Homo sapiens: one gene and its partners. The protein of the gene in region 1 purifies or fractionates together with the protein of each later gene. This does not show direct contact. Each region holds a gene or a part of one and is shown in the gene's direction. Other genes may lie near its edges. The genes, in order: NCKIPSD, GIT1, ITSN1, SNX33, EPS15L1, ITSN2 and ARHGEF7.

Evidence for each region.
Region 2: the proteins of NCKIPSD (region 1) and GIT1 purify together in Homo sapiens (co-immunoprecipitation; 3 studies listed by BioGRID and IntAct, with this or other methods). This does not show direct contact.
Region 3: the proteins of NCKIPSD (region 1) and ITSN1 purify together in Homo sapiens (co-immunoprecipitation; 3 studies listed by BioGRID and IntAct, with this or other methods). This does not show direct contact.
Region 4: the proteins of NCKIPSD (region 1) and SNX33 purify together in Homo sapiens (co-immunoprecipitation; 3 studies listed by BioGRID and IntAct, with this or other methods). This does not show direct contact.
Region 5: the proteins of NCKIPSD (region 1) and EPS15L1 purify together in Homo sapiens (co-immunoprecipitation; 3 studies listed by BioGRID and IntAct, with this or other methods). This does not show direct contact.
Region 6: the proteins of NCKIPSD (region 1) and ITSN2 purify together in Homo sapiens (co-immunoprecipitation; 3 studies listed by BioGRID and IntAct, with this or other methods). This does not show direct contact.
Region 7: the proteins of NCKIPSD (region 1) and ARHGEF7 purify together in Homo sapiens (co-immunoprecipitation; 3 studies listed by BioGRID and IntAct, with this or other methods). This does not show direct contact.

What each region holds. Positions count from the first base shown.
Region 1 is NC_000003.12:48,682,570-48,687,258, reverse strand, and holds the start of NCKIPSD (NCK-interacting protein with SH3 domain), read left to right. Parts: upstream 1-1,343; 5' UTR 1,344-1,451; coding exon 1,452-1,622; intron 1,623-4,246; coding exon 4,247-4,356; intron 4,357-4,689. UniProt on the Homo sapiens protein: Has an important role in stress fiber formation induced by active diaphanous protein homolog 1 (DRF1). Induces microspike formation, in vivo. In vitro, stimulates N-WASP-induced ARP2/3 complex activation in the absence of CDC42.
Region 2 is NC_000017.11:29,572,841-29,576,875, reverse strand, and holds the end of GIT1 (ARF GTPase-activating protein GIT1), read left to right. Parts: coding exon 1-13; intron 14-201; coding exon 202-354; intron 355-425; coding exon 426-656; intron 657-744; coding exon 745-798; intron 799-977; coding exon 978-1,064; intron 1,065-1,172; coding exon 1,173-1,246; intron 1,247-1,405; coding exon 1,406-1,588; intron 1,589-1,733; coding exon 1,734-1,797; intron 1,798-1,940; coding exon of another isoform or gene 1,941-1,961; coding exon 1,962-2,174; 3' UTR 2,175-3,401; downstream 3,402-4,035. UniProt on the Homo sapiens protein: GTPase-activating protein for ADP ribosylation factor family members, including ARF1.
Region 3 is NC_000021.9:33,771,068-33,775,265, forward strand, and holds part of ITSN1 (intersectin-1), read left to right. Parts: intron 1-993; coding exon 994-1,256; intron 1,257-3,661; coding exon 3,662-3,811; intron 3,812-3,900; coding exon 3,901-4,041; intron 4,042-4,198. UniProt on the Homo sapiens protein: Adapter protein that provides a link between the endocytic membrane traffic and the actin assembly machinery. Acts as a guanine nucleotide exchange factor (GEF) for CDC42, and thereby stimulates actin nucleation mediated by WASL and the ARP2/3 complex.
Region 4 is NC_000015.10:75,654,261-75,658,458, forward strand, and holds part of SNX33 (sorting nexin-33), read left to right. Parts: intron 1-2,701; coding exon 2,702-2,955; 3' UTR 2,956-4,198. UniProt on the Homo sapiens protein: Plays a role in the reorganization of the cytoskeleton, endocytosis and cellular vesicle trafficking via its interactions with membranes, WASL, DNM1 and DNM2. Acts both during interphase and at the end of mitotic cell divisions.
Region 5 is NC_000019.10:16,423,017-16,427,214, reverse strand, and holds part of EPS15L1 (epidermal growth factor receptor substrate 15-like 1), read left to right. Parts: intron 1-1,898; coding exon 1,899-2,132; intron 2,133-4,198.
Region 6 is NC_000002.12:24,203,080-24,207,277, reverse strand, and holds part of ITSN2 (intersectin-2), read left to right. Parts: intron 1-1,002; coding exon of another isoform or gene 1,003-1,031; exon of another isoform or gene 1,032-1,034; intron 1,035-1,980; coding exon 1,981-2,064; intron 2,065-2,859; coding exon 2,860-3,033; intron 3,034-3,494; coding exon 3,495-3,652; 3' UTR 3,653-4,198.
Region 7 is NC_000013.11:111,121,624-111,125,821, forward strand, and holds part of ARHGEF7 (rho guanine nucleotide exchange factor 7), read left to right. Parts: intron 1-4,198. UniProt on the Homo sapiens protein: Acts as a RAC1 guanine nucleotide exchange factor (GEF) and can induce membrane ruffling. Functions in cell migration, attachment and cell spreading. Promotes targeting of RAC1 to focal adhesions. May function as a positive regulator of apoptosis.

The sequences.
Region 1 (4,689 bases):
TACCCCTCACCTGAACCTCACACTAGGCCTATGTACTTTAGGCCTAAAAATAGGCAACTGGGTCAGACAGACACCCATAATCCCAACACTGGGAGGACTGCTTGAGTCCGGGAATTTGAGACTAGCCAGAGCAACATAGCAAGACCTTGTCTCTACTAAAAAAAAAAAAAAAAAAAAAAAAAAAAAAAGCTGAGTGTGGTGGTGCATGCCTGTAGTCCCAGAGACAGTAGGCTTGAGCCTGGAAGATCAAGGCTGCAATGAGCTTGATCATCCCACTGCACTCCAGCCTGGACGACAGAGCAAGACCCTGTCTCAAAAAATAAATACAGATAAAAATAGAAAACTTGCACACACTGGCCTGTACACGCCTCCTGCTTCCTGGGCTCGGGCTTCCTGTGGAGCGTAGCTGGACCATTCTCAGCCACAGTCTCTCCAGGACCCTGAGGGCCTCTTCCCTGGGTCTTCCAGGCACTCTTATTACACGGATTTCATATATCTGGAGATCTGGGCTGACTGGAAAGCTGGGTGGATCAAATAGGCTCTTAAGGCCACCGTGGTACCCCACTCCCTCTTTCAGCCCTCCTCTATGCTCTCAGAAAGGGGCATCGCAAATCTTAAGTCCTATAAAGACAATAAAACACAGCAAGATGATAGCGATTGATGGGGGTGGGAGCTTGACGGACAAATACTATAGGAGAGGGAAGGGAAAATTGTCCCAGGTAGAGGGAACAGAATATGCAAAGGCCCAATATAGAGAAAACCAGCCATAGCTGAAGAGAGAGGAGGAGTAGGGGTGGGGAGCAAAGATGGGAGGGCTTTAGACAGGGAATAGCCCCGCCTGGTTTCTGCTTTTGTGGCCCCCTTCTCCCCACACTTGCTCCCCACTGGCCACCACCGGCACTCGGTGAAGACAGGTGGTGAGGCCTAGACACACCGAGAGCCGGGCCCCGCGGGGGCTTCCAAGTGTCGGATCAGCAAGATCATCCTTTCGAGGTCGCCGTCCTTGCAATTAGTAGATGGGACCCACTGCCCCAGGGCGGTAGGGGCGCACCCGCTACGAGCGGAGCGCGCTTTCACCGGGAGGTAGGACGGGACGCAGCGCTCGGACTTAAGCGGGGAAAGGGAGCAGAGGGCTGGACGGGTGAAACTGAGGCCGGGGTGAGGAGTGAGGGTGCGGTGTCCGGGGATGAGGGGCCTGGAGCCGGGAGGGACCAGAGGAGACAGCGAGCTGTCGACCCCAGCCCCGCCGCACCTCTTGGGGCCGCGCGGGGGCGCTGCTCTCCGATGCGTGGAACGATACAGCCCGGGGCGGGGCTTCGGCGGGCGGGCGCGCGCGCGCCTGCGTAGTGTGTCACGGGGCGGGACAACCGCGGCGCGGCTCGGCGCTCCCGGCCTGGCGTTGTGGCGCCGCAGCCCTTGCCACCTTCCCTGCACCTGCCCTGCCCGGCCTCATGTACCGCGCGCTGTACGCGTTCCGCTCGGCGGAGCCCAACGCGCTGGCGTTCGCCGCGGGCGAGACCTTCCTGGTGCTAGAGCGAAGCAGCGCGCACTGGTGGCTGGCCGCGCGGGCGCGCAGTGGTGAGACGGGCTACGTGCCGCCAGCCTACCTGCGCCGCCTGCAGGTGAGTGCGCCCCTTCCCGCCCGGCCTCCGCGCCCCTGGGGCAGGACCCCTTCACAGCCCCGCGGAACCGACCCAGGGACCCCACCCTCTCCGGGACCCGAGGCCAGGACCTCTATCAGACAGGGAGTTTGAGAACCTGACCCTGAGACCCCCGGACCCACGGGGACTGAGACCCCAAGTGTCAGCATCACCCACAAAAGACCAGGCCCTTGACAGACCAACTCCCGATCGACCAAAAGCCTAACTCTGGGACTGAGACTCCTCAGGACCCCAGACCCTTCAGTATCGAGTCCGCCATCTGAATGGCGACCCTGAGCCCCACCGAATCCTGGCCAATTATTCAAATCCCTGAGACCCCAGATCCTTAATATGCCCCTTCTCTGGATTCCTAGGACCCCACAACCAACCTCCCTCCCTCCCTCCCTCCCTCCCTCCCTCCCTCCCTTCCTTCTTCCCCCAACCCCGCGCCTTGCCCCCCGTTGGAGCCACCACTGAGACCTGGACCACCTTGGACACCACCTGTTTCCCTAGCCATTCTCCAGGTCCTCAACCCCCCAACTTGGACCCTAGAGCCATAGACACCTCCATCCCCTATGTAACACCCAAGCTTTGGTACTTCAGTGTCTTTCACTAGCCTGTGTTCAGCCACCCTCTAAGCTCTTCTTAAGTCTCTACCAACCTTATTTGAACCAAGGACCCATGCCCCTGCTGACACTGTCTGCTCCACTCCCCAACCCTGACTTCTCAAACTTTCTTGCTTTGAAAATGGGTTCCATCCCTACTTGTTCCCAGCCTGGAGTGGGGACTGCTCACATTGTGATGAAGTGAGTTCTTATAGCTTCTCCTGGTCTGATCGTGGCCCCATTTCCTTCCAGTGGAAGCTGCAGTCCCAGTTCCTGTTTCCCTAAGAGTAGCCCTGCTGCGGGGGTTGGGGTGCGTATCTCCAGCTGGTCTATTCTGACCACAGGGGGAAGAAGGGCCCAGAGCTGCCGGGCCTGTGCCAGACACCCCCGCCCCGTCCTAGTCCTTATCCTTTAGGAAACATCCTGTCCCAGCCCAGTTCAGGACAGAAATAACGGGATAAATTTGGAAGTGTCATCTGGTCTTACCAGGAAGGATGGGCCCTGGGGGCCTAGGGGCTTCCTCATAGACCCTTGGCGTGATCCCATCTAGGAGTGCCAGGGGTGGGAGTGGGGGCCGTGGACACCATGGCTGCTGTGTGTCAGACCCAACCTTTTTGGGAATGGGGTCTCATTGAAGGCCTCTGAGGAAAAGTCCTGTCTCTTCCCCTACTGGGCATAGGTCAAGGGCCTGTGAGTCCCCTGCCGCCAGCCAGGACCAGTGGGGCAAGGTGTTTGGGGAGGGCAGAGAGGCTACCATCTTCTCTGTCACTGTCTGTTTCTTTCTGCGTGTCTCTTTCTGTCTGGATTGCTGCGACTCTGTGCCTCTCTGCCTGTGTCGTTCCGACTCCACATGTGTGTGTTTTTGTTTCTTCCTCCGGCTCCCCCCACACTCTGGCTTTGGCTCTGTTTCTTTCTGCGTTGTTTCCCTCTGTCTGCCTCTCCGTTCCTCTCTGAGCTCCTCTCTTTCCCCATTCCTTTCTTTCTCTCTCTCTCTGTGTGTGTGTGTGTGTGTGTGTGTGTGTGTGTGTGTGTGTCTTCATGTCTTTCTATCCCCCTGTCTCCTCTCCCTGCACTCTGGCACACCTCATACCACCTGGAGGGCTTTGCTGACCTCTGTGCCCACCTGTCTGTGCCCATCAGGGAAGCTTCTCAAACCCATGGTGGAATGAGTTCATCTCAGCTCCGGGACTCCTATGTAGCCTGATGGACTACGTGTGCCAGGGCCAGGGGAGGGCTGGGGGTAGCTGGTTTGATAGCTGCTACCCTACACTCCCCATGTCAGATAGGCAGAGTAGACTGGATCCCTGGAATGTTGGGGATGGCAGTACAGAGCCTGGAACAGGGGCTAGGCCCCTCTCTCATGTTTATCCTTTGCCACAAACACAGAACTGCTTCCCAGGGTGGGTTTGGAAGCTTACTGAGACATCTTGTGGGGATGAGGGCCAGCAGCAGGGTTGGGGAGGGCAAGTCCCTTTGACCCATTCTCAGCTCCCAGGGCTTACAGAGGGCCCTTACAAGGACAGGGCTGTTCTGGGGTATGACCTTGGTTTTGTGAAAGATCAGCAAGATGCAGAGTGATGTATTAAGGATTCCAGATACTGGAGACTTCCTGTTTGGCATCTCAACCTGGGCTCTGAGCCAAGACCAGGGATAGACGAGGTATGCGCTCCTGGCTGCAAGCTGGGAGCCCCTGGGCTATGTTTTTGCTTTAGACCTCTGATTTTCAGAAACATCTTAGCCAAGAGCCTTGCTGTGGGGTAAAATCCTGATCAGGACCTAATATGTAATGTGGCAGCATGGGGGTCACCCTGTGCCTCAGCTCCCTGAGTGATACAGTTTGAGAACCCCATTCCATATTCTGGTTCAACTTTTTGTGCTATGTCTAGCATTCCAGGCTTTCGCTATATTGGTTCTCTGCCCTGGGTTCTATCTCGGGCTGGGCCTGGGCTGAGCACCTCCGTTTGGCCTTCAGGTCTAACTGCTGTCCCCTGCCCCCCCCAGGGCCTGGAGCAGGATGTCCTCCAGGCCATTGACCGGGCCATCGAGGCTGTACACAACACAGCCATGCGGGATGGTGGCAAGTACAGCCTGGAACAGCGTGGAGTCCTCCAGTGAGTGTTGAGGGGAGTGAAGTGGGACCTCCCGGTGAGCATGGTGGGGTGGGGTTCTTCAATGAGTGTCATGGGGCAGGTGGGCCTGGGAAATGCGAGGGTTGGCAAGGGTGGTGGGGGAATGGCACCTCCCAGTGAGCAAGGTGGGGTCGGGTCCTTCAGTGAGCACCAGGGGTGTGCAGAGCGCAGGACTGAGGATAGTATGGGGTACTGTAGGCTGGGGTGGAGCATGGAGGAGATGGGGATGTCTGAGGGGCCTGGGCTATGGGGTCCCAGCATCCCACAGGGGCATATGAGGACTTTGAGCTGTGAGATGCAACCCCCCAATAGTCT
Region 2 (4,035 bases), on another chromosome or scaffold:
CAACCGGGCCCGGGTCTGAGTCCCACCCTCCTTCCCACTCCCCTGTGCCCTGACCCAGGCCTTCGCTGAGGCCCAGCTCTGTCCTCTTGTAGCCCAGGGGCCTGAGGGACAGGTGGGCTGCTCCTAGCCTCAATAACTGCCCCCTGCGGGTGTTGGCCTCCCTGCCCCCAGGTGCTGACCAGCTTAGGTCTCTCTCTGCAGAGCATGGACTCCTCGGACTTGTCTGACGGGGCTGTGACGCTGCAGGAGTACCTGGAGCTGAAGAAGGCCCTGGCTACATCGGAGGCAAAGGTGCAGCAGCTCATGAAGGTCAACAGTAGCCTGAGCGACGAGCTCCGGAGGCTGCAGCGAGAGGTGAGGGTGCAGCCTCGGTGGGAGGGGGAGCCCCAGGACTCCAGGGGGTTGACAGCACTTTGCACCCATAGATCCACAAGCTGCAGGCGGAGAACCTGCAGCTCCGGCAGCCTCCAGGGCCGGTGCCCACACCTCCACTCCCCAGTGAACGGGCGGAACACACACCCATGGCGCCAGGCGGGAGCACACACCGCAGGGATCGCCAGGCCTTTTCCATGTATGAACCTGGCTCTGCCCTGAAGCCCTTTGGGGGCCCCCCTGGGGACGAGCTCACTACGCGGCTGCAGCCTTTCCACAGCACTGTGAGTCACCTATGGGTCTCAAGGTGTGGGGAGATGGGTGGGGCTGCCGCAGGGTCCACCATGACGCTCGCTGTGCTAACATCCCCAGGAGCTAGAGGACGACGCCATCTATTCAGTGCACGTCCCTGCTGGCCTTTACCGGGTAAGCCTGGGGAAGGCGTGTCCATCTTAGCCAGTAGGTTCTGAGCCCCAGGGGGTTCTGGGCTCTGTGCTGAATTCGGGGCTTAAGATGATTAGACTGACCTGGTCCCTGCTGCACTGCTGGTGAGCAGGGGGGCAGTGGGGCACACTGACTCCATCCAGCGCTGCCCTGGGTTTCAGATCCGGAAAGGGGTGTCTGCCTCAGCTGTGCCCTTCACTCCCTCCTCCCCGCTGCTGTCCTGCTCCCAGGAGGGAAGCCGCCACACGGTAATGTTTCCATGCCCAGTGCCCACAGGGTGGCTGGGGGCCGTGTGGGCTAGGGGCAGTGTGGGTCCAGGAACACGGCGCTCACAGCCCCTTCCCTCCGCCCTCCAGAGCAAGCTTTCCCGCCACGGCAGTGGAGCCGACAGTGACTATGAGAACACGCAAAGTGGGGACCCACTGCTGGGGTGAGGCTCCCTGGGTCTCCAGTCCAGCCTGCTCACATGCCGAGGCGGGGAGGTTGAGAGGGCCCCCAGTGTGTGAGGACCAAGGCGGGCGGCTCCGAGGCTGGAACGTGTCTTTCTCTATATGTATCTTTGTCTCTGTTTTCTGGACCTGGGCCTCAGGCTGGAAGGGAAGAGGTTTCTAGAGCTGGGCAAAGAGGAAGACTTCCACCCAGAGCTGGAAAGCCTGGATGGAGACCTAGATCCTGGGCTTCCCAGCACAGAGGATGTCATCTTGAAGACAGAGCAGGTCACCAAGAACATTCAGGAACTGTTGCGGGCAGCCCAGGAGTTCAAGCATGACAGGTACTGAGTGGAGGGGGAGGTGAGGGGGATGCAGTTCCTGTTGGCTTCTAGGGTGTTGCAGAGAGCATGAGGGGCCCTGGGTTCTGCTGTCCCTGGGAACCTCCCTTGAGAGCCCCCTGCTTTATAGCCTCCCTTCTCCCCGCAGCTTCGTGCCCTGCTCAGAGAAGATCCATTTGGCTGTGACCGAGATGGCCTCCCTCTTCCCAAAGGTACAGGGGCCAAAGAGAGGACCAGGAGTGGGAGGGCCTCGAGCTGGGGCAGGCGTGGAGAATCCCATCTGATCGCTACCTGGGTGGAGACACAGACAAACTGGGCCCTGATCTCAGCTGGTGGCTTAAAGTCCAAGGTCCAGCCTCACTCCTGCCCCCTCCAGAGGCCAGCCCTGGAGCCAGTGCGGAGCTCACTGCGGCTGCTCAACGCCAGCGCCTACCGGCTGCAGAGTGAGTGCCGGAAGACAGTGCCCCCAGAGCCCGGCGCCCCAGTGGACTTCCAGCTGCTGACTCAGCAGGTGATCCAGTGCGCCTATGACATCGCCAAGGCTGCCAAGCAGCTGGTCACCATCACCACCCGAGAGAAGAAGCAGTGACCTCTCTCCCCACACCCTCACCTGCACCCTAGGACCTCACTGGCCATAGGAGCTGGGCCACTCCAGACATTAATCCCCACCCCAACAGAGCCACTGGCACAAGTGCCCTTAGTGCTGCCACACTCCCTGGCAGCCAGGTGCCCTGGTGCCCACCCCTGTCGAGCCCCTAAGGATGGGGAGGTGGGGGGGCAGGAGCTTCTGTCCCCCACATTCCATGCACCTCCCCTCTGTATATAGCATCTCCCCCCTCCTAGTGAGCAGGGGCCTGCAAGGCATCACTCCCAGCCCCTCGCCTTCTAGGGCACCCTCAGCAAAGGGGCAGGTGGGGACACTCCAAGTGGGGCAGCTCTCCGTACATGCGCCCCACCCCCATGAGCCAGTTCAGCCCTACTGGGGGCTGAGCGGGGGCATCCCCTCCTTTGTACATAGTCTCCATGGATGTCCCTGCCCTGTAGCCACCAGCCCCTTGCTGCTCTCCCTTTAATGCCATATGGCCCCTGCCTAGGGCACAGGCCCCAACCTGTGTGCTGGGGTCCCCAGCAGCAAACACTGGAAAGTCTGTTTTTTTTTTTTCTTTCTTCTTCCCCACCCCTTAATTTTAACTTTGTGGTAACTGAGTGCCCCCGCGTGCCTGCGTGTTGAGTGTGTGGGCGGCAGTGCCGTTCCGGAGGCCTGGTCCATCTGGAGTTTTGAGGGGTGAGGGGACCAGAGCAGTGGGACCAGCATGGGGATCAGCTTCCCTTCCCCACCTGGAGCCAGGGACTGTCCGGGTAGCCAGTTTTGGTCCTGCCAGCTGCCTCCCTGATCCCTCCCCACTCTCGCCCCTTCTCTATGAACTTAAATCAAAAACCACTTCCCTCCATCTCCTCCTGCTCCTGCGTGGAGGGGGAATGTGTGCTGGCTAGGGTGGAGGACTGAGCACCTGAGCCTGGGGCTGGCTCCCCGGGGTCCCCGACTCAGCTGGTGGCTGTGGAGCTGAGTCCCCTCCCCGTAACCTCTGCAAGGCCAGCACCCACCATCACTACCTGCACCTGCTGTGGTCCCACCCTCTGGAGGCCTGGGAACCTGGCTGCAGCCTGGGAAGGCTGGAGAGGCAGACGGTGGGACCCACCAGCTCTCTCCCCATCCCGCTTCTTCCCTGGGGGCCAGGCCCTACCTGTGTGGTGGTGGGTGGGCTGTCAAGACGTGTCATGTACATTTGTATCAAAAATAAAGAAGTGACCATGAGCTGTTTCTGATGCTTAGAGAATGGGGGCTGGAGGGAGGTGGCAGACATGAAGGGTGACTGCAAGTGCCCCAGGACCCCCGCCCTAGGGAAGCCCCTGTGCTGGGAACGTCTGTCTAGTGGAAGAGTTAGTTTGCGAATAACAAAGCTAACATGTATGACGATAACGCCACCCTCCCACGAGCACATTCCTAAAGCCCCATGTCCAGGGACAGGTTGGCCAGCGGGGGCGGGCTGCCTCAAACACCACCTCCATGGCCTAGGACGAGGGTCCGGGTGGGAGTCTCTGTGCGGCAGATGCACAAGCTCAACTCCAGAGTCTACTAAAAATAATTTAATTAGAAACGGAGTTTTGGCAAGGGAGGCAGAAGCGGCTCCTTTTCTCCCCTTGGCCGCCCACTCAGCAACCAACAAGGAGGAAAGCCCCCGCAGTGCTCGGCCAGTGCCGCGCCATCGCCACCAGGGAGCGCCCCGCGCGCGGTCCACGTGGCAGAGGTCGCGGCCTCGCGGCGCGGGGAGGAGCCGCACGCCACAGTGGCAGGTCCCAGGCCGTCACTCCGAGCTCTCGCCTTCCGGGCCGCTGTCCGGCGTGGGCGGGAGGAGGGGTCTCCGGCGCGAGCGCTTGACCCGGCGCGA
Region 3 (4,198 bases), on another chromosome or scaffold:
GACTTTGAATTTTAAGATATCAGAGTAGAGGATACCATCTCCTCTGAAATCACCAAAGGTGAGCAAGAAAACCAAAACATACTTGCCCGCTTTCATCTCTAATCGCTGACTACAGTACGTGAAGGAAGTCTGTCTAAAGCAGTGAAGTCCAAACAGGAATGTGGGAAGAAGCCAAAGATGGATGCTCACAGCTGCAGATCTCAAGGCAGAGTGAGAAGCAATGGTTCTTAGATGTGGACCAGGGACTGGCATGCTGCACAGGGTGGCAATGAGTGCTCCCCTGGCCGGCGTTGGTACCAAGGAGGATTGCGTGAGGCCAACACAGAAATGAAATAGACACTGCTGAGGACAGTAAGGGACAAGGATGATGGGATTGTAGAAAATGAAGAAATAAAATGGACATAAAGTATTAGAAAAAAAAGGATAGAACTGAGTAATCATTCTAAATTTATAATTGATGTGTTAAAGAAGGAAACTGAATAATGGGTTAGAAAAAATTGTTGACTGACTGTGATCTCCATAGGGATCAGGGCACAGCTTGTTCTTCAGTGTGAAAAGCCGAATGCTCACCTTTCACTCTGCTTTGAGAAATCTTGTTAGAATAGAGGACTCATCAGCACGGTTACAAGGCAAAGGGAAGGAGGGAGAGAGACAGAGACTCATGGTCCAGAAGAGAGGGGGTTAATTCCTAGGGCAAGCTCATGGGAAGAAGGGAAAGGATGGAGTAACAGGGAAGGAAAGGAGTCTGGATGGTGATGTAGAACTGCTAGATAAGGATCTTTTAGAAACAGTGTTTGGCGTGGAGGAGAAGATATAAACAGAGAGGTTAGGCAAAGGGGGTTTTCGTTGTGCTCATTAACAAGGACACAGAAGCTTAGGGAGTTCTGGGTTTGGGTTTGTACTACAAATTTCAAATACATTGGTGAGTTTTCCTTTGAAAAGAGTCCGTTGAAAATCTTGAGTTTTCATAGTTGCTGTGTTCCTTGTCTGAAGTAACGTTTGAAGATAAGAAGCGGGAGAACTTTGAACGTGGCAACCTGGAACTGGAGAAACGAAGGCAAGCTCTCCTGGAACAGCAGCGCAAGGAGCAGGAGCGCCTGGCCCAGCTGGAGCGGGCGGAGCAGGAGAGGAAGGAGCGTGAGCGCCAGGAGCAAGAGCGCAAAAGACAACTGGAACTGGAGAAGCAACTGGAAAAGCAGCGGGAGCTAGAACGGCAGAGAGAGGAGGAGAGGAGGAAAGAAATTGAGAGGCGAGAGGTAAGCAGGCGAGAGTGGAGCCACCCGGAGTTAGTGTGCGATCACCCCTTTTCAGAATTATCCAAGTGATCTATTCACGCCATCTTTGTCTTTTTACAATTCAGTAGTTTTAGTATATTCCCAAAGTTGTGCAACCATCGTCCCTAATTCCAGAACATTTTCATCACTCCAGCTCTTTACCCATTAAGCAGCTACTCCCCATTTCTTTCTCCCTCCAGCTCCTATCATTAATTTTACTTTCTATCTTTCTAGATTTACTTATTCAGGACATTTTTTATAAATGGAATCATCAATATATGGACTTTTGTTTCTGGCTTTCATTTAGCATAATGTTTTCAAGGTTCATCCACATTGTAAAATGAATCAGTCCTTTATTCCTGTTTATGGCTGAGTAATATTTCGTTATATGGGTATACCACATTTTTTAATTCATTCAGCAGTTGATGGTCATTGTGGCTATTATAAACAATGATGTTATGAACATTAATGTACAAGTTTTTGATGATACAATTTTGTAACAAACCACTGATACCAGTAAAGTGTTTTTCCAGACTGTTTTCTCTGTATACACCTATATAAAAATATAAAGGTTTATATGGCGGAGAGTGTAAGGGCTGTATAATTTTTTAAAAACCACTGTAATAGTATCATACCAATTACATTGTTCTGCAATCTTCTTTTTTTTTTTTTTTTTTGTTTGAGACAGAGTCTCGCTCTGTCACTTCCAGGCTGGAATGCAGTGGCATGATCTCAGCTCACTGCAACCTCTGCCTCCTGGGTTCAAGCGATTCTCCTGCCTCAGTCTCCTGAGTAGCTGGGATTACAGGTGCCCGCCACCACGCCCAGCTAATATTTTGTATTTTTAGTAGAGATGAGGTTTCACCATGTTGGTCAGGCTGATCTCGAGCTCCTGACCTCGGGTGATCCACCCGCCTCAGCCTCCCAAAGTGCTGGGATTACAGGCATGAGCCACCGCGCCTGGCCCATGCAACCTTCTTTTTAAACTCTTTTAAAAATATGTCTGGGACATCCTCCCTATATTCTATGGAAGGCTTCGTAAATTTAGCGCCATACCTGGAAAGGGGCTAAGCAAATCTTGTCTCTCTTTCCAATTTTAGTACATTACTGCAGAAGCAACACATGGTTCTTTCATGTGAATGAAAGATAAAAATGAGGAATTTTTCGATGTAAAAAAATAGCCTGAGTGCTGTGCCTCAAGCCTGTAATCCCAGCACTTTGGGAGGCTAAGGAGGGATGATCACTTGAGGCCAGTAGTTGGAGGCCACTGCATTCCAGCCTAGGTGACAGAGCAAGAACCTGTCTCAAAAAAAGAAAGAAACAAAACTTATAGCCATAACTCCTTTTTTTTTTTTTGAGACAGACTCTCGCTCTGTTGCCCAGGCTGGAGTGCAGTGGCACGATCTCAGTTCACTGCAGCCTTCACCTCCTGGGTTCAAGTGATTCACCTGCCTCAGCCTCCGGAGTAGCTGGGATTACAGGCGTGAGCCACCATGCCTGGCTGATTTTTGTATTTTTAGTAGAGACAGGGTTTCGCCATGTTGCCCAGGCTGGTCTCGAACTCCTGACCTCAGGTGATCCGCCTGCCTCGGCCTACCAAAGTGCTAGGATTACAAGCGTGAGCCACTGCGCCCGGCCCCGTAACTCCTTTTTGTTCAGACAGACACTAACAAAATTTTAATTTTCAGAATGAACAAAGATAGGCAAACTTTTCTTCAACGTACCAAAAAAATGATATTCTAGAGTATTTATTCAGAATTATTTAATAGACATTTACCATGTATCAGGTGTAGTTGGATGACCCATGAGTCAGAGGCAATTCCCATAGACTGTCAGATGCTCTGATATGTACTCTATCTAGCAGTCGTCAGAGCCAGTCGTTGGAGGGAGCAAAAGCTTTTGTGGTAAAAAGGAAATGAATGATTAGGAAGTGGGGAGTCGCAGACTTTTAAAACGAGTTAAGTAATAATTTCTCTTTTGGTGGAGTAAAATCAACTCTTGTTTGTTTTTGTTCAGGGGTGTTTTAGTTTGATTTTACTACATAAATTTTCCTTCTTGGCGTGTCAGTAAATAAGAAGGAGCATTTTTAGTTAGCACATCAAGCATTCTTGAAGGCATAAAGAATGGAATTCTAATGGGGAAATAATCCTGTCATCTTACGTAAATATAGTATTATGTAAATATAATACCCAGTTCTGTGTATTCCCTTTATTCCCATAGAAGGAATACTGTATTTTTATGTAATTTTTTGTTTTCTAATGTGATTTCTTGTAATGTTTAATATTTCATCCCTAAAAGGAAAGACTTCCTAGATGCCATTTTTGTGAAAAGACATTGTGTAGTGTAAGAACTGAAAAATTAGTAATTTGTCTCTGTAAATGTCACAGGCTGCAAAACGGGAACTTGAAAGGCAACGACAACTTGAGTGGGAACGGAATCGAAGGCAAGAACTACTAAATCAAAGAAACAAAGAACAAGAGGACATAGTTGTACTGAAAGCAAAGAAAAAGACTTTGGAATTTGAATTAGAAGCTCTAGTGAGTGAAGTTTGGTTATACTTTGAAAATATACTAAGATGGAACCATTAAAAACAGTAATAATTTTTATTATCTTTCATTTGTTCAAGAATGATAAAAAGCATCAACTAGAAGGGAAACTTCAAGATATCAGATGTCGATTGACCACCCAAAGGCAAGAAATTGAGAGCACAAACAAATCTAGAGAGTTGAGAATTGCCGAAATCACCCATCTACAGCAACAATTACAGGTGAGGAAATATGCCTCTTAAAAGCTATTATATTAAACTGGCATCCTTTTCTCTAATTCATTTCATTTACTTACTTATTCAGTAAACATTAAGCAACTGTCTTGTACTAGGCACTGGGAAGCAAAAATGAAGTAGACAGGGTCCTTGTGTGAAAAGT
Region 4 (4,198 bases), on another chromosome or scaffold:
CAGATGTGGAAACTCCTTAAAGCACTATACCGTGTGAGAGGTTGTCAACAGCATCACATCTAGTGCAACCTGTCCCACTGGGCAGTGGGGAGACCTGGAGCCCAGGCAAGAGCAGTGGCTTGCTGGAGAGGATACAGCTAGGACTAGGACTCAGACCTCCTGCTCCCTCCTGCCCCCAACCTGGGGTGGATGTTAACTGTCTCCAAGAGGCAGGGGCAAGATGGATTGAGGTGGGAGCTTAGGGAATATCCCTGGGACTTGCAGCTGGTGGGCTCCAACCCTCCTTTCTGCATTTTTGGGACCCAGCCTGTAAGAGGAGTGCTGAGGCAGGAGGTCCCCCTGGGTCCTCAGCTCTCAGGTTAAGTCTTAAGTAGAATGTCGGGGGGATGCTGGACAGGCCTGAGCCCTGACTCCCAGCCTGTGGGGTGGGGTGCATTAGCATTAGCTGGTCCTGGCCCCAGAGCTGAGTCACAGGGTGGAGGGGTAACGGAGAACAGGGTGGGGCCTCTGTTTCCCCCCGACCTCTGCAGCCTTTGCTCCCCATCCCTGGCCTCCTGCCTGTCTGTGGATACCTAACCATTGCAATGGGTTCATTCTTACTCTTTGGGCTCCTCATCAGCAAAAGAGGCCTTTCCTTCCTCTAAGGCCATGGACAGGAAAAGTCTATAGATGCACTTCCACTGTGCCAACTTTCTCGGCAGGTGGAATCCAGGCTAGTTCAGTATCTCCTCTTTAGCTAGGTTCCTTCTGCGGAAGTTTAACTCCAGTTTCTTCACCCTGCTGTTTTCTACCTTTCTTCTTACGGTTCTTCCTACTCCTTGGGACCTTCTTGAATCCCTGTGTCCAACGTCTGGGGGCCCCACACATATGCCTGAAGGACCTGGCATGGGCTCCCTGCAGCAGAAGTGGTGTCCGACCCCCAGCTGTGGAGGACCAGGCAGGAAAGAGGCTGGGAGTCCTGGGCAAGTTCCTGCCCCTCAGGGCCTTGGCCTCCTCTGTACAGTAGTAGGATGGAGGTGGAATCGAGGGTTGGACACCTGATCTTTTGGGCCTTTCTAGCTCTGAAGTCTCTTACTGGGTCCTATCCTGGGCCTTGGGGTGATCCCCCTTCTGCTGCCCAGGGCTGGGCTGTTGAGATGGTGCAGGAGGTGGTCCAGGGAAGGTGGCAGAAGGACTGAGTGGGCTGGGAGCTGGGGAATGCAGATTTCTTTTGGGCGCTGTGTGAGCAGCCCTGGAGACTCTCTGAACTTGAGTCTGTTTGCCTGAAATGCTACTATTAGCCGATTAGCCATGCACTTATCAACTAACATGGATGTTGCCCCTTCTAAAGGCATCCAGAGTTATTCCCAGCATGTAGAGCCCTGGGCCTGATATACAGTAAGTGCTCAATGAATGCATTTAGAATGCACTGGACAATTTGAGCCAGGGAGTGAAGAGAATATTATCTAGACAGCCCTCAAGAGCCCTCCTTAAAGGAGAAGTGGGAAAGCATGGGTATTGAGCATGCTATCTGTGTGTAGTGGGTGCGTTTGCAGTGCTCAGGGGTGTGCTGTCCTCTATGCCAACCCTTCCCTGCTCCTAATCTTCTTTGTATGGTGGATTCTCTGCAGCCCTCGGCGACTGAGTGCCAGGCACAGGCAAACTTCCTTCTCTTCCCAGCAACTGTCCCCACTGGCTTAAAGGCAGAATTCGTCAAGTCCCTTTTAATTCAGAACTGAAATTCATTCACCAGCTGCTTGTTCATTCATTCAGATTCTTCTAAATTGGGTCCTCTGCCCAGGTTCATCTCCACCCCCCATCTGTCACCTGGTTATTACACAACCTCCTCGAGTTCCCTGGGGGCTGGGATGAGGAGGGAACAGGGCGTGCATGTCTGGGAGATACACCAGGTGGCCTTTGAAGAGTTGTTTTAGAATCAGCAGTGTGATGGGGGTGGGGGTGGGGAGCCAGGGCACAGGTGACATGGGAGAGACATTCTGTCAGGGGAACTGGGAGAGGCTCCAGTGTAGAAGTGGCACCTGATCGGGGCCATGAATTATGAATAGGAATCCAGGGGGCAGAGGTAGGAAGGTAGGAAAGAGCCAGGTGAGTTTGACGAACATGGGGGTCAGTGTGGAATGCGTGCAGGGGCCAACTCCCAGAGGTGAGGGCCCCCCAGGCCAGGCAGATTGGTGTGGACCTTGATCTGTAGGTAGTGGAGAGCTAGGAAAGGTGCCCAGCTTGGGATACCTCTTTAGATGCTGCAGAGAACCTGTCAGAGGCTGGGGCGGAGGGCAGGGAGACGTGGCGGGGCTGTTGTAGCAGTCCAGTGAGGGACAGGGTTGAATCAGTTCAGCAGGCCTATATCAGGATCTGCTGTGGGCCAGGCCTTGTTCTGGGTACCAGAGACACAGAGAGGTTGAGGACAGGCTCTATCCTCATTGAATTCATAGTCCATCAAGCAGGGCTGTGACTGGTCACATGTGGGCTACTGGTGGCACTGCACATTTGGAGAGAAGATGATGTGCTTGGTTTAGGAGGTGCTGAGGGTGATGGCTTGGGTAACATCCTGGCAGAGACACCCAGGTGGCTGGAATGTGGGTCTGGGGCTCAGGAATGACGTCCGAGTTGAGCTGATGAGGGTGCTGTCTGCCCTCAAGGGTACAGGGAGCACATGGAGATCAGAGCCCTCACACGCTGTCCTCTGCTCTGCCTATGCCAGGCGCCTTCGCCAAGGTGAAGGAGAGCCAACGCATGAGTGACGAGGGCCGCATGGTGCAGGACGAGGCAGACGGCATTCGCAGGCGCTGCCGCGTGGTGGGTTTCGCCCTGCAGGCCGAGATGAACCACTTCCACCAGCGCCGTGAGCTCGACTTCAAGCACATGATGCAGAACTACTTGCGCCAGCAGATCCTCTTCTACCAGCGGGTGGGCCAGCAGCTGGAGAAGACCCTGCGCATGTATGACAACCTCTGACCGCGTGTGCCTGGGCCCCCTCCTTCCCCTGGGCCTGGTCACTGCAGTGTACCCCACTTTCCCGACCTCCCTATACCAGCAGTGACTGGGGGAGGGGTCAGCGGTGGGGGAGATAAGCGGCCTGTCCTGCCTCCTGGGAGAAGGAGCTTTCAAGGAGTCATGGGTGCCCCTGGGAAATTCCCCACTCCTTAGAAGTGGGGCACAGCAGGGGTGAGAATAGAGTCAGGAGCCCTCGAGGCCAAGGCCTGGGCTGCCGGTCAGTCAGTGAAGGTCAGGCCAGGGTCTCAGCCTCCCCTAGAGCCTATTTTGCTTGCTCACCTGGCCACTGCTGCCTTATCCATTCAGCAGACACCGAGGCCTGCTGCACCCTTGGGTCGGATGCTGGGCACCCAGGGCTGTGACATGCCTGCTCTTCAGGAGTCCTCAGTGAAGGTCGGGGTCAGACACAGACAGAGTCAATGCAGTATGACTGATGTTTAAGTGAGGGATTTCTGGAAGCTCATAGAAGGGACCACAGCATTCCACTGGTCAGGGAAGACTCCATAGAGTAGGCAACATTTGGGCAGTGTTTTGAAGAATGACAAGGGCCTGCCAGACAGTACATGGGGGAGAAGGACTTTCAGGGGAGAGGAACAGCATGGGCAAAGTTATGGAGGCATGCAAACATCTCCCTCTTCTCTCCCTTACTTTCCAAGCAAGTTAGGTACGCTTTCCATGGGGATTCTGGCCTGTGTGGTAGGAAGGGATCTCCCTTGCTCCCATGTTGCTGGCTGTCCGTACATCACCCTGTCCCCTGCAGGAGGGGGCTACAGGCCATCTCCCTCCTGTAGGCCTCTGACTCCCCTCCACTTTTGGGCCCTCAGCTTATCTCGGGCAGGGGACCATTGCAGCATCCTCCCCTCCTCGGACTCAAGGTGCTGAGGTATAAGCCCTGGGCCCCAGATCCCTGGTGACACCTTCCTGGAGAAGACTCTCAAAAGTGACTGTATATTTGAGTTCACCAGCAATAACTCCCCACACTCGAAGCAGGTCCAAACCCAGGATCTCAGGGTCCTTGGGCTCTGTGGCACTGTCTTCCCAAGATCCTTCCTGTTGCACAATGGGAAACCTAAGAGGAAAAAGACAGGGGCCTGCTTGCCCAGCCATGCGAGGGATTCCATGCCCACCTGCCCTCTGTCTGCCTCGCTGGAATGTGGGCCCCTGCTCCCCGTCAGGTTGTGCTGTCTCTGACCTATGTTTACAT
Region 5 (4,198 bases), on another chromosome or scaffold:
TCAACTCAAGCGACCTCCCCCCTTGGCCTCCGACAGAAAATTCTTTTGAAAACTCTTCAGTCAAATTTCCCAGTGTCACTAATTTCCTACATTTGTTTTATCTTTCTCCTCCCTTCTTCCTCCCTCCCTCCATCACTCTCTCGCCCTTCCCACTGCTGCACGAAGTTTTCCTGTGAACCATTTTAGGGTTAAGTTGCAGACATGATGCCTCTTCATCCACAAACACTTCAGTGCGTATTTCCTAAAAACAAGGACTTCTCTCACACATAACCATTATCCACTTCAAAATCAGGAAATTCACATCATAGCATTGCATTTATGATGTTTTCATTATATCCTGTATATACCCCTTATATTCTGTATGAGCGTGTCTATTATTATCTAATCCCAGGATATTACTCAGATTTTATCAGTTGTCCCAAAAATGTTCCTTGTGTCTAAAGAGAACCCAGTCCTGTGTGTTACATCCTGTTGTCTTTTGTCTTTCGTTTCCTGGGATCTAGAACAGTTCCTCCATCGCTCTTCGTGTCTCTTGACGTGGACTTTTTGTTTTTTTGTTGTCGTTGTTCTGTTTTTGAGAGGGAGTCTCACTCTGTCATCTAGGCTGGTGTGCAGTGGCATGATCTCAGCTCACTGCATCCTCCACCTCCTGGATTCAAGCGATTCTCCTGCCTCAGTCTTCCAAGTAACTGGGATTATAGGTGCCCACCACCACAGCCAGCTAATTTTTTTTTTGAATTTTTAGTAGAGATGCGGTTTCTCCCTGTTGGCCAGGCTGGTCTTGAACTCCTGACCTCAGGTGATCTGCCCGTCTCGGCCTCCAAAGTGCTGAGATTACAGGCATGAGCCACCATGCCTGGTTTCAACGTGGACATTTTGAAGAGCACAGGCCAGCAGTTATGGAGTGTTCCTAGGCCTGGGCCTGGCTGCCAGGTCCTCTTGATGACCCAGGTCATGCACTCTTGTGAGACAGGAATCCCACGGAGGTCACACCCGCCCCACATGGGCCTCCCACCTGGGGGAACGTGATGTCAACATGTCTTCTTACTGCCATGTTGACATTCATCACTGGGTCAAGGTGGGTCAAGGTTGTGGGTTCCTGTGGGCAGTTGCTCTTTTTCCCTCTGTGCTCAGTTCATCTCATGTGGGGCACGCCTTGATACGGTCAACACCCATGACTCTCAGACTCTTCCATGAGAGTTCCACCATCGCTGATGAGTCTCGCCTTAATCTGGCAAGATTAATTATGATGATGGTGGCTGCCAAATGGTGATGTGCTAATCAAAACCATCATTCCTTGCACTTTTATTAGTTGGCCTTCCACAAGGAATTTATTTCTATGGCTGTGGCCTGCCTCATGGATGCATCCTCAGTTCCACTGTTTTTTGTTTTGTTTTGTTTTGTTTTATAGAGACAGAGTCTCGCTCTGTCACCCAGGCTGGAGTGCAGTGGCGCGATCACAGCTCACTGCAGCCTCCATCTCCTGGGCTCAGGCAATCCTCCCACCTCAGCCTCCCAAGTAGCTGGGACTACTCCTGAACGTCTTGAAGTACAGGTCTCTCTTCTGGTGTCTTTAGACTTCCAAATCCAGTACTGGGAAGGTGCCAGCCCTGGAGCTGGTGGCCTCCCTGAGTGGTGAAGGGATGCATATGGAGTCTGGCTTGATTGGATTCTTTCTGTGTGCATTTCAGTCTCGAGGAATAATTCAACACATGTCTTGGAAAGTTACACATAAAAGATAACTCATGAGGAATGATTTCTTTTCACTCTGGTCAGCTTGGGAGCGTCCTGACAGAGTGTCCTGTCACTGCAGCCCCCAAAGGGCTGCCCTCTGCCTTCTCCTGATGGTCCCGGCCCCAGCCTTGCCCCTTCAGTGCCATTGTTGTTTGCACCTGCAGGCCATGCACTTGGTGTACCGAGCCCTGGAGAAGGAGCCCGTGCCCTCCGCCCTGCCCCCGTCCCTCATCCCACCCTCCAAGAGAAAGAAGACTGTGTTCCCTGGCGCCGTCCCCGTCCTGCCTGCCAGCCCCCCACCAAAAGACAGCCTCCGCTCCACGCCGTCCCACGGCAGCGTCAGCAGCCTCAACAGCACAGGGAGCCTGTCCCCCAAGCACAGCCTCAAGCAAACACAGGTACGGAGCCCTCAGCGGGCACAGCCCCCTCTCAGAGCACAGTAGGATGTTTCTCGGGAGTTCTTAACATGCAACCCCAGAACGGTCAAGCTTGTGATGAAATGTCTTTAAAAAATGCTTGTGGCCAGGTGCGGTGGCTCACGCCTGTAATCCCAGCACTTTGGGAGGCCGAGGTGGGCAGATCTCAAGGTTAGGAGATCAAGACCATCCTGGCCAACATGGTGAAACCCCGTCTCTACTAAAAATACAAAAAAATTAGCTGGGTGTGGTGGTGCGCACCTGTAATCCCAGCCACTCGGGAGGCTGAGGCAGGAGAATTGCTTGAACCTGGGAGACGGAGGTTGCAGTGAGCTGAGAGCGCGCCACTGCACTCCAGCCTGGGCAACAAGAGCGAAACTCTATCTCAAAAAAAAAAAGTATTCATTTATCTCATTATTTCAACATGGTCTCCCCTATGTTACTCAGGCTGGTCTTGAACTCCTTGGCTCAAGTGATCCTCCTGCCTCGGCCTCCCAAAGTGCTGGGATTACAGGTGTGAGCCACCGTGCCCAGCCTGTGTCTGCAGAGCTCTTGCCAAGAGTTTTGAAAGTCAGGTTAGGGGAGGTACTTTACTGGCAACGAAGCTAGTGGGGCCAAACTCACTGGTAGGCACAGGTCACCCAGCGTCATAACCCACCTCTCTAGTGATCTTCTGGTGGTTCTCTCAAGACCCTCTGACTAGACCGATTTTACCAGTGGCCCCTGGTGGGGTGGGGTGGGAGGGTATAGCTCCTGCCCCCACGACGGCATTGGTAGGATCACAGTCATGAAAACGAGCATTTCTGGGGGCCTACAGTCCACATGCTCCCCCTACTCCAACTTCCTCATCTCCAGGCCAGCAATGCTCTTGTCTGGGCCTCCCAAGGGCCACCCGATTTTGCCCTCATGCCAGGTTTGAGTGAAGCCACTTCCAGCCACCAGGGTCTGATATCCTTCCTTTGGGACCTGTGGCTGCTGAGCCGGCCTTAAAGCCCAGCTGTCACTGGGAGAGCCAGCTCCACGGCAAGGCTGCCCCGTGTTGGGTTTATAGTCAATTTGGCATCAGAATCTTGCTGCTAACATACTCTGAGGCTCCAGAAATCAGGCAGTGAGTTCCTTTTGTTTGCCCAGCAAGTATTATTAGGACTCTTGTCATCCCAGAGCTATAATTTCATACGTAATTTCTTCTTGGGACCCGTGGGACACAGAACCCCCCTTGTTTCTGTGTCCCGCCACAGCTCAGCTTGTCTGACTCCTGTTACCTCTTTGTGATCCCTGGCTTCTGAGGTTAGCTTGCTGTAGCTCCGTGACTTAAAAGGCAGCAAGCCCATTTCTCATTAGAATTCCTTTATTGGCATCTTTACGTCCACCAGACTTGAGAAGGCTCACAAAATTTACACAGTACAATGCCACAAGTAAAAATCAGGTTGCTCTTGCCATCTGAACTCTCATCATTTGAATTAGATCCATAGATTTTTTTTTTTTAAATATATAAGAGACAGGATCTTGCTCTGCTGCCCTGGCTGGAGTGCAGTGGTGCAATCACGGCTCATTGCTATCTCAACCTCCTGGGCTCAAGTGATCCTTCCACCTCAGCCTCCCTAGTAGCTGGAATAGGTGGATGCCACCACACCTAGCTAATTTTATTTATTTATTTATTTTGTAGAGATGGGGTCTTGCTGTGTTATGCTGGCTGGTCTTGAACTCCTGGGCTTGAGGGATCCTCCTGCCTTGGCCTCCCAAAGTGCTGAGATTACAGGCATGAGCACTGTGCCTGGCCTAGCTCCATGGATTTTGATAAATTGTTTGATCAAGTCCTTGCTGTACTTCATCACACATACTTGCTACGTGAAACCCCTGAACTAAGCTGATCTGGGTCACATGGTATCCCTTGTTTCCCAAGCTTGCTTTCTGATTTCCCTGAGTTGGTATCAGGAGCCTGTTAGATTTGGACATCACAGGAGACTCGTTCATGAAGAGTAAACGAGTTTAACCATTGTTTCCCAGTCTTGACCATGAGTCCCTTCTCCTCAATCCTATGGACATCT
Region 6 (4,198 bases), on another chromosome or scaffold:
CATCGCCCTTTCCTGTCCCCGTATCACAGGCCCCCGATCTCCCACCCAGGCTGCAGCACAAGGCTCTCTTTCCTCTCTGCCACCCATCCTCTTCATTTCTGGAGTATTCTTTTTTCCAGAGCTGCTCTTATACCTCTTCCTGCTGAAGTATCTTCCCTATTGCCTCCCAAATTAACGACACATTTCTTACCCCACACTCAGGGCCCATCCCCACTACTACCTGCCACCCAGCCCCATCCCTAGCTCTTTCCTGTGCCCGGCCCATCCAGCTGCCTAGTTGAGCAGCCCATTGTTGCCCTGCCTGGCCTTCCCATGTGAGCTCCCCCTCCAGCTCAAGTGCTCTGCCCTCACCTTAAATTCTTCCCATCCTTCAAGGCCCACGTCAAACACAGCCTCCTCCATGACACCCTCTTGCCCTAACCAGTGTGACTTCTACCTGGACCCCCCGCTGTCCTGAGGCTGCGATCATCCTCCGGGCGCTCATCCTCTGTTGCCTCTGCTTGCGCCCTCTCAGTCCCTGCTTTTCTCACTTAATGGCCATAAGCTCCCTCAAGGCAACTCCCTCCCACATCGGGGCCAGCATGTGACTTATGCCAGTGGGGCTCCAGATTTGTTGCACCGGTGATGTCCTCTGTGTTCATGGCACAGATCACTCACCTGCTCAGTGGAGCCGCAATGGTCTTTGTAAAGCACCCCCCACCCCACCCTGCCCCACCGTGGCCTTCAGACCAGAGCTCCCACATTCTTCTCCAGCCTCCACATGAATGCCAGGCCCCAACCTCCCTGCTGCATCTCCAGCTGTGCCAGGCCAGCCTGTGGCCTCCACCCCACAGGGGGCCTGTGCTCTGAGCCAGCTGCATCTCCACCTTCCTCCCCGCCGGCCCCCTGCATCTCCACCTTCCTTCCCGCCGGGCCCCCCCATGCAGCCTGCCCTCCTGCCTGGGCCTCCCACCAGCTTCCTGGCTGCTATAGTTGCAGCTCTTTATGTGTTTTTTTATTCAGGTTTCCCCCATTTTGTTATATACTCCTAAAAGGTATGTTTAAAACAGCTTTTGCTAATTTAGTGTTATTTTAATGGTACTTTAAAAGCTTGCTGTTGAAAAATCAATGATTGATCATTTCATAACGCATATGATCTCTTAATTGGCCAAAGATGTCAATCCGGTTTTTCTGCCTGAGTTTTGCTTCCCATCAGCATCTGCATATGTTGCTGTGCATCGTCCGTGCGTTCAGTCCTTCCCACATTTGTCAATTACTTTGTGCCAGGCTCTGTGCTAGGCTTAACTGAGCCTGGACTTTGGTATCTGATGTTTAAATGTTGACCCTGCCATTTAGCAGCTCTGAGTGGATCACACTCCAGTCCTTTCTAAGCCTCAGTGTTTCTCATCAGTAAAATGGGGAGCTACATTATCAGGTAATTATGCAGTTTAAATAATATAATTTACATAAGTCTAGCACATGCCTAACACAAAGTAAGTATCCAGTAAATGTTAGCTGCTATTAAGTGCTGCACAAATACCATGTATTATTTTATTAATATTACTATTTGCTAGGCAATTGAGGGGTTAATATAAGGATGATCGAAACAGTCCATGCTCTACCCTGGCTCCTGTCTGGCAGAGGAGACAGACATTACACACGATTTCAGACCCAGCAGGCTGTGGGCTGCTCATAAGCGAGGGATACTGGATGCAGAGGAGGGAAGGGATCTGGGAGGTAGATGTGGGATCAGACCTGCATCTTGAAGGATGAGTAGGATGCTGACGGGCAGAGAAAGCAGGCAGGGCAGAAAGAGCAAGCAGGGGCTTCCTAGCAGGCAACACAGCCTGGGGAAAGGCACAGGGCAGCCAGATGCTGGGCTGTTGGGCCCAGGGCAGTGGCAGATGGGGACAGGGAGCCGGTAGTGTTATGGTTGGTTTGAAAGACAGGGTCTGCATCCTTGGAGAAGAGATTAATGAGACTTGTCTTCCTCTTTTGTAGCCCGCTCCCAAAAGACTTCAGGCATTGGGCGCCTGATGGTGCATGTCATTGAAGCTACAGAATTAAAAGCCTGCAAACCAAATGGTAAATACTGCCTTGATTCATTCAGCAGACATAACTGCCCTGCCCCAGTTTTTGCTGATGACTTTTTGAGACAGAGTCTCAGTGTATAACCTAGGCTGGAGTGCAGTGGCACGATCTTGGCTCACTGCAACCTCTGCCTCTGGGGTACAAGTGATTCTCAAGGCTTAGCCTCCTGAGTAGCTGGGATTACAGGTGTGCACCACCACGCCTGGCAAATTCTTGTATTTTTAGTAGACACAGGGTTTCACCATGTTGGCCAGGCTGGTCTCGAACTCCTGACCTCAAGTGATCTGCCCGCCTCGGCCTCCCAAAGTGCTGGGATTACAGCACTTTGTCACTGACAAAGTGCCACTGCGCCCAGCCACTGATGACTCTTCTGAACACTGAATAAAGGAATGCTTTCTAACAGTGTGTCCAGTGCCACTAAAATGCGCATATTGGACCAATATTCTTATCACTGTTTTCCCAGTAAGTGCCAGTGCCCGCCTTCCCGAGTGTGTCTGCGCCGAGGAAGCATGCAGCAGGTTGCAGTGACACTCACCCAGGATTGTTCCGTGCGGAGTGGTCCTGGCGGTGGAGCTCTCGGCCACTCCCCAGTTAATGCTGCTGTCAGCACTGGGAACTTGGAGACCCTGTTACTAGACCACAGGGATATGGTGCCCCAGGCAGCGGCTCCTGCTGCCATGGTCTCGAGTGACCCATTATTGGAATCCTGCTTCTGCTCAGGGAGGGCACTGTCAGTCGCTTCGTTTTACCTGCATGCACCACATGTGTCTGTGGTTTGTTTTTGTTCAGGAAAGAGCAACCCATACTGTGAAATCAGCATGGGCTCCCAGAGCTACACCACCAGGACCATCCAGGACACACTCAATCCCAAGTGGAATTTTAACTGCCAGTTCTTTATTAAGGATCTCTACCAAGACGTGCTGTGTCTCACCCTGTTTGACAGAGACCAGTTTTCACCAGATGGTAAGTGTCGCTCAGCCAGGGGATCTAAAGGCTTTCCCAGTTTCCTAGATCCTGGAGTCCAGATCTAGGGGCTTCAGCTGTGTGCAGACCCCATGCCACTTCAGGGAAGTGACACAGGCCTGTGTCATCTCGCTTTGGCAGCAGGTGGGTGGCCTTCCTCAGGGGAGGAGGTGGCCTGAGATGTGTTTCAGGTCTTTGACCCATCACTCCCTACACACACGACGTGAACACCACTCCTGGAGCATTCTCAGAATGGAGATTTGAATTCCATGTGGCAGCTTCTCACACACAAACCTGCCATCATTCCCCACACACCCACTCACGACATTCAACAGCCATGAGCCAAAAGAAGTTCCTTGTTTCAGATTTGAAGGTTTTATGAATCCACTTCTTCCGGATGTAGCTCTTTAATGATTTTATAAAGAAGAAAGACTTCTGACTCTCCTGTGTTTATTCACCAGATTTCCTGGGTCGTACTGAAATTCCAGTGGCAAAAATTCGAACAGAACAGGAAAGCAAAGGCCCTATGACCCGCCGACTGCTGCTGCATGAGGTCCCCACCGGGGAGGTCTGGGTCCGTTTTGACCTGCAGCTTTTTGAGCAAAAAACTCTCCTGTAGGGGTTCTAAAGGACAGCACCAGCGGGACAGCCCACAAGGCTGGGGCTGGAGAATGAGAGACTGCGCTCTCTTGGGGCTGAGGGAGCACCATGCAGCTTCACCCCTCACAAAGCCATGCACGCTGGGGGCTCTGTTTTCCTGCACACTAAATAGCTAGCAATCTATGCAAACACCTTTCCCATAAAGAAACCAAACCCCATAGTACAGTGCCTTGTCCTAGTGTTCACATGTTCAGCTCTGTTTGTTTAGATGCCAAGGTTTCCATTTTCAGGGCTATAAAAAGTATTACTTGGAAATGAGGCATCAGACCACCAGATGTTACCGCTCGGTTGAATGTGTCCACCGTGGAGTGGTTTGGTGACGCTGTAACCATTCCACGCCAGTGACCTCTGCTGGGTCACAGCCACTCAGGAGGGGAAGGGTCAGGATGAGAGGCTGCAGCCTCGACACTTGGCGCGGCCTGATACTGAAATAGCGTCTACTCGTGCACTGAATAAAAACAGAAACTTGATCATTTTATTCCTGATTAGATTTTATCACTCTCTG
Region 7 (4,198 bases), on another chromosome or scaffold:
AGAGGCACATCATCCCTTTGGGCACGCAACTCTACCACGTGCATCGCTGGGAGATGGGAGGACTGGCATCCCCCGAACCCACGGGTCCCTGCCTGGAGACACTGGGAGACCCGGTCCTCTGCGTGCTTCAGAGTCAGGCACACCTGGCTTTGTTCCCGCAGCCATTTGCTCTGTGACTTCCGGCACCTGTCTAACCTCTCGGAGTCCTAGTTTCTTCCTCCTAAAAATGAGATGAATGATATCCACTGGTGGGGGCAGTGAGGTCATTACCAGGGTAAATGAGTAGATGTGCTGGGCACAAAGTCATTCCTCAGTACGCAGTAGTTACTGTTTTGTTGATTGACACTGAAAACCTTCCCCATCGTGTCCAGAAGACTGTAAGCCAAGATTTGAACCTCAGAGCCATCCAAATCCAGGAACACGGGTTAATTCTCACAACAGGGCAGACTCTTGCAACTTTCGGGGGCTGGCAGCCTCTGCATCCCACTCTGGACAGACCACCATTGTCTGGGTTGGTGGGCCTGCTGAACGTGGCTTCCAGGGCCCTCTGGTCAGCGCCAGATCTGGGCGCAGCTGCTGAGTGCACACAGCTGCTGGTTGGGGAGCGGGAGGGCTGAGCGGGTGGACTCAGGTTTCGCTTATATAAAGTTTCATGCATCAGCAGGGCCGGGAGTCAGAGATGGGAAGTGAGGGCCAGCCTGCCCCACCTGGTGTCTGCAGAGAGAGGGCTTTGGGGCCGCCCCGGTCCGACTGCTTCCCGGGTACAGCTTCTGACTTCTCCCTCCTTTATCAGTTCTGTCAAGTTAGGGTAGGAGAATTAATCTCTTGATGTTTTTATATTTCTAACTTTAGCTTTGAATTTTTAAGGTTTGATGCACCAGGCTGGCAGTTCTCAACTCTGTTTTTGCAGGATGGTGTCATGTCTGCTGGGGTCTCAAGGCGAGGCGGTGAGGGGAACTGAAATGGAATGTGTGCACAGTGTATTTCAAACACATGTATGTGAATTCATTTAATCATCCCTTTTACCAGGTTCCTATTGTGTGCGTGCTAGTGACCCAATCACACGCATGGAAGCGCACGCATGGATGCCAGCCATACCACCTCTTCAGGCAGGTCAGAAGAGAAATGCTAGGATCTTGGGTATAAAGTATTTGTGAGTTCTCAGGATGAAGGAATGTAGAGTCATCCAGCCCAGACGCCTCCTTTTGCAGATGGCTTCACTGAGGGCACCTGCATGTGGTTGTGTAAGCTGTGTACTGCCCGGTCTTGGGAGAACCGTTCACACTGTAGTCTAAGCAAATGGCTCCAAGGCCTGTGCTGGGAGGCGGCCCTGGGATACTGTGTATAGAGGTCAGCCTCCCAGGACACAAAGCAGAGTGGAGAAGGGTTGGGGTAGACGATAGAAGTGGCCCCAATTCTCCAACCCTCCCATGCCCCTGGCAAAGTGACCTTGTAGCGCCTCCATCAAGAGGTAGGAGTCTGCTTCCTCACTTCTTGAATCTGAGCTGTGACTTGTTTTGGCCAATGGACTGTGGCAGAAGTGGCCAGTGTTAGTTCCTAGCCCAGGCCTTGGAAAGGCTTGCACTTTTCTGCACTCTCTCAGGCCCTGTGTCTACCTCCGAGGAGACCCCAGGGCTTGGGTGCTGGTGGGGTGTGATCACATGGAGGAGAACTCAGTTGTCCCTGCTAGGCCATCCTGGACCTATCCACAGCCAGCCAACCTCAAACATTGAAGAGAGCCCAGCCAGGGTCAGCAAGCTGCCTGCCCTGCCCAGAGCAGGCACAGCTGCACCAGCAGGCCCGGACCAGGCTGACTCAAGCCAGCCACTGAGGTTTACCATGGCCATAGATAACAAATCACACACACACACATACATGCCCGTGCCATTCTTAACTAGGGGACATGCCGATATATGTAAATACAGTCCATCCCAATCACAAGAGTGCTTGTACCTTTGTTTAAAATACCCTCTATATCCTTTATTTCCTTGATAATTTCCTCTCTAGTATTTTCTCTATTCTCATTTTTTAGAAATCTTATTAAGACTAATCAGAGATAATATCTATTGAGTGCATACTGTATGCCAGGCACTGTTCTAAGGACTTTGCCCATAATAATGGATTTAACCCTCCTCACCACCCTATAAGGGAGGTGGTGACAGGATCGCCCCCATTTTCAGATTAGGAAACGGAGCTCCAGAGCGGCTGGTAACTGGCCATCGTTGGCTGGTGGGCTGCGCCCCCCCCCCCCGGCCCCGCCCCCTGCCCCTGCGGCTGCCAGGCCTGCTGGGTTGAGTCTCTCATTTGCTGACCTTTCCACTTGTATGTTTCTTCTCCTTCTGAAAGACATTTCCTTGACTTTATCTCCCAACTTTTCTACTAACATTTTTTATTTTGACCTACTTTGGCTATTTTTTTTTTAATTTCTAAAAGTTCTTTTTTCTCGTTATCTGGTTTCTCTCTGTTTCTTCCCTTTCAGTCAGTCCCTTCCTGTTTCTGGGAAGATTCCTCTCTTCCTGTGAACATTCATTACAGTTTCCTTGAAGGGTGCTTCCTTCCCTGCATTCACTGTCTCTGTTTCCTCTGAGTCCTCTTATGCAATTCTTTTTTTCCATGTTGGAGATTTACTGAAACATCATGTGATCTTTCAAGTGTGAGGCCCTCAAAATGACCAGGAAGTCCTGTGTGACTGCTGGGGCCCAGGGACATGCAGGTCTCGCCATGGGGCAGCCTGGTGATGCCCAGAAGTCTGAACCTGTTGGTCTCTTCTCCAGCAGCCGTGAGTCTCTCCAGAGACTCCTCCATCTGCTGCCTATCAGAGCAGTGTCCATCCTCACCTTGGCTCCTGTCCATGCTGGCCCTCTCCATGTTCTGGCCTCTTTGGTTCACTTTTCCCCAGAGAATAAGCCTCGGACCCCTGCAAGGATGGCAAGAGGGGTGGCCAGCTGTGATGGGGCTGGGGCCCCTAGGCCTGCATCTGACTCTCAGACAGGTGGCTTGTCTACCACCTGGGAGGGTGCACTTGCCACTGGCTACTGGGATGGGACCTTCTAGTCTCTGCTGAAGCCCCACCCATCCTCCGTCTGCTCCCTGCCTTCATAATGGTGGCCTGGGGATAGGTGTCTTCTAGTTTTTTTTGTTTTGTTTTGTTTTTTAGACAGAATCTCACTCTGTCACCCAAGCTGGAGTCCAATGGCACGATCTCGGCTCACTCCAACGGCCGCCTCCCGGGTTCAAGTGATTCTCTTGCCCCCGCCTCTCGAGTAGCTGAGGCTACAGGTGTGCGCCACCATGCCCGGCTAATTTTTGTATTTTTAGTAGAGACAGGGTTTCACCATGTTGGCCAGGCTGGTCTCAAACTCCTAACCTCACGTGATCTGCCTACCTCGGCCTCCCAAAGTGCTGGGATTACAGGTGTGAGCCAGTGCGCCCAACCAGGTGTCTTCTAGTTTTATTGAAGATGATGCTTGTGTTTCTTGTTCTCCTGGCTGTTTTGGAGGGATTTTTTTTCAAGAGAAGTGAGGCTGAAATAATTTTACTGTACTGCTTTGGACCTGGAATCTTTCCATGATGAGAAAAAGAGAGAGAGTGAGAATATATGAATGAATATCCATGTCCTATGCCCTGGGTTTCATATCTCTTCTTCTGAGTACTTTAAAATTACTAGAGAAAACAAAACTGGAAGCTGGTTATTTGAAATGTTCTTTTTTTTCTTGTTGCTTGGTATTTTGTGCATAACTTTATTATTACACTTGGAGCAGCTTTTTTTTTTTTTAGGGGCTGGTGATCATCCTATCTTTTCTCTATAGAAGCTATATATAATTCAGAATCCCAAAAAGTGTATATAAAAGAAACGTAAGCCTCGTCCAGTTTATATTAAATTGCCTTTGTCTAAAATGGGCATCCACAGCTCCAAGTGTGTTTGGATTTGCGTGTTCTCTCGCCATGAAGCCTTGTTCTGACAGTGTGATCTATTAGCAACGCCTTTAAAGTGGCCTGGTTTTGATTATTTGTAAATATTATGGCCAGTGATGGCTTTTCTCCCTCAATTCTGAGTGTCTCACTACTAATTTCCTGTGCCAGAATACTTTTTCACCAATGTCCTGTCCTTAAAGTAGCTTAAGTTCATAAGGGACTTTTAAGTACCCATTTGTAGTTAGCAGATTTTTCAGATGTCTTTTGTTAGGAATACAGATTT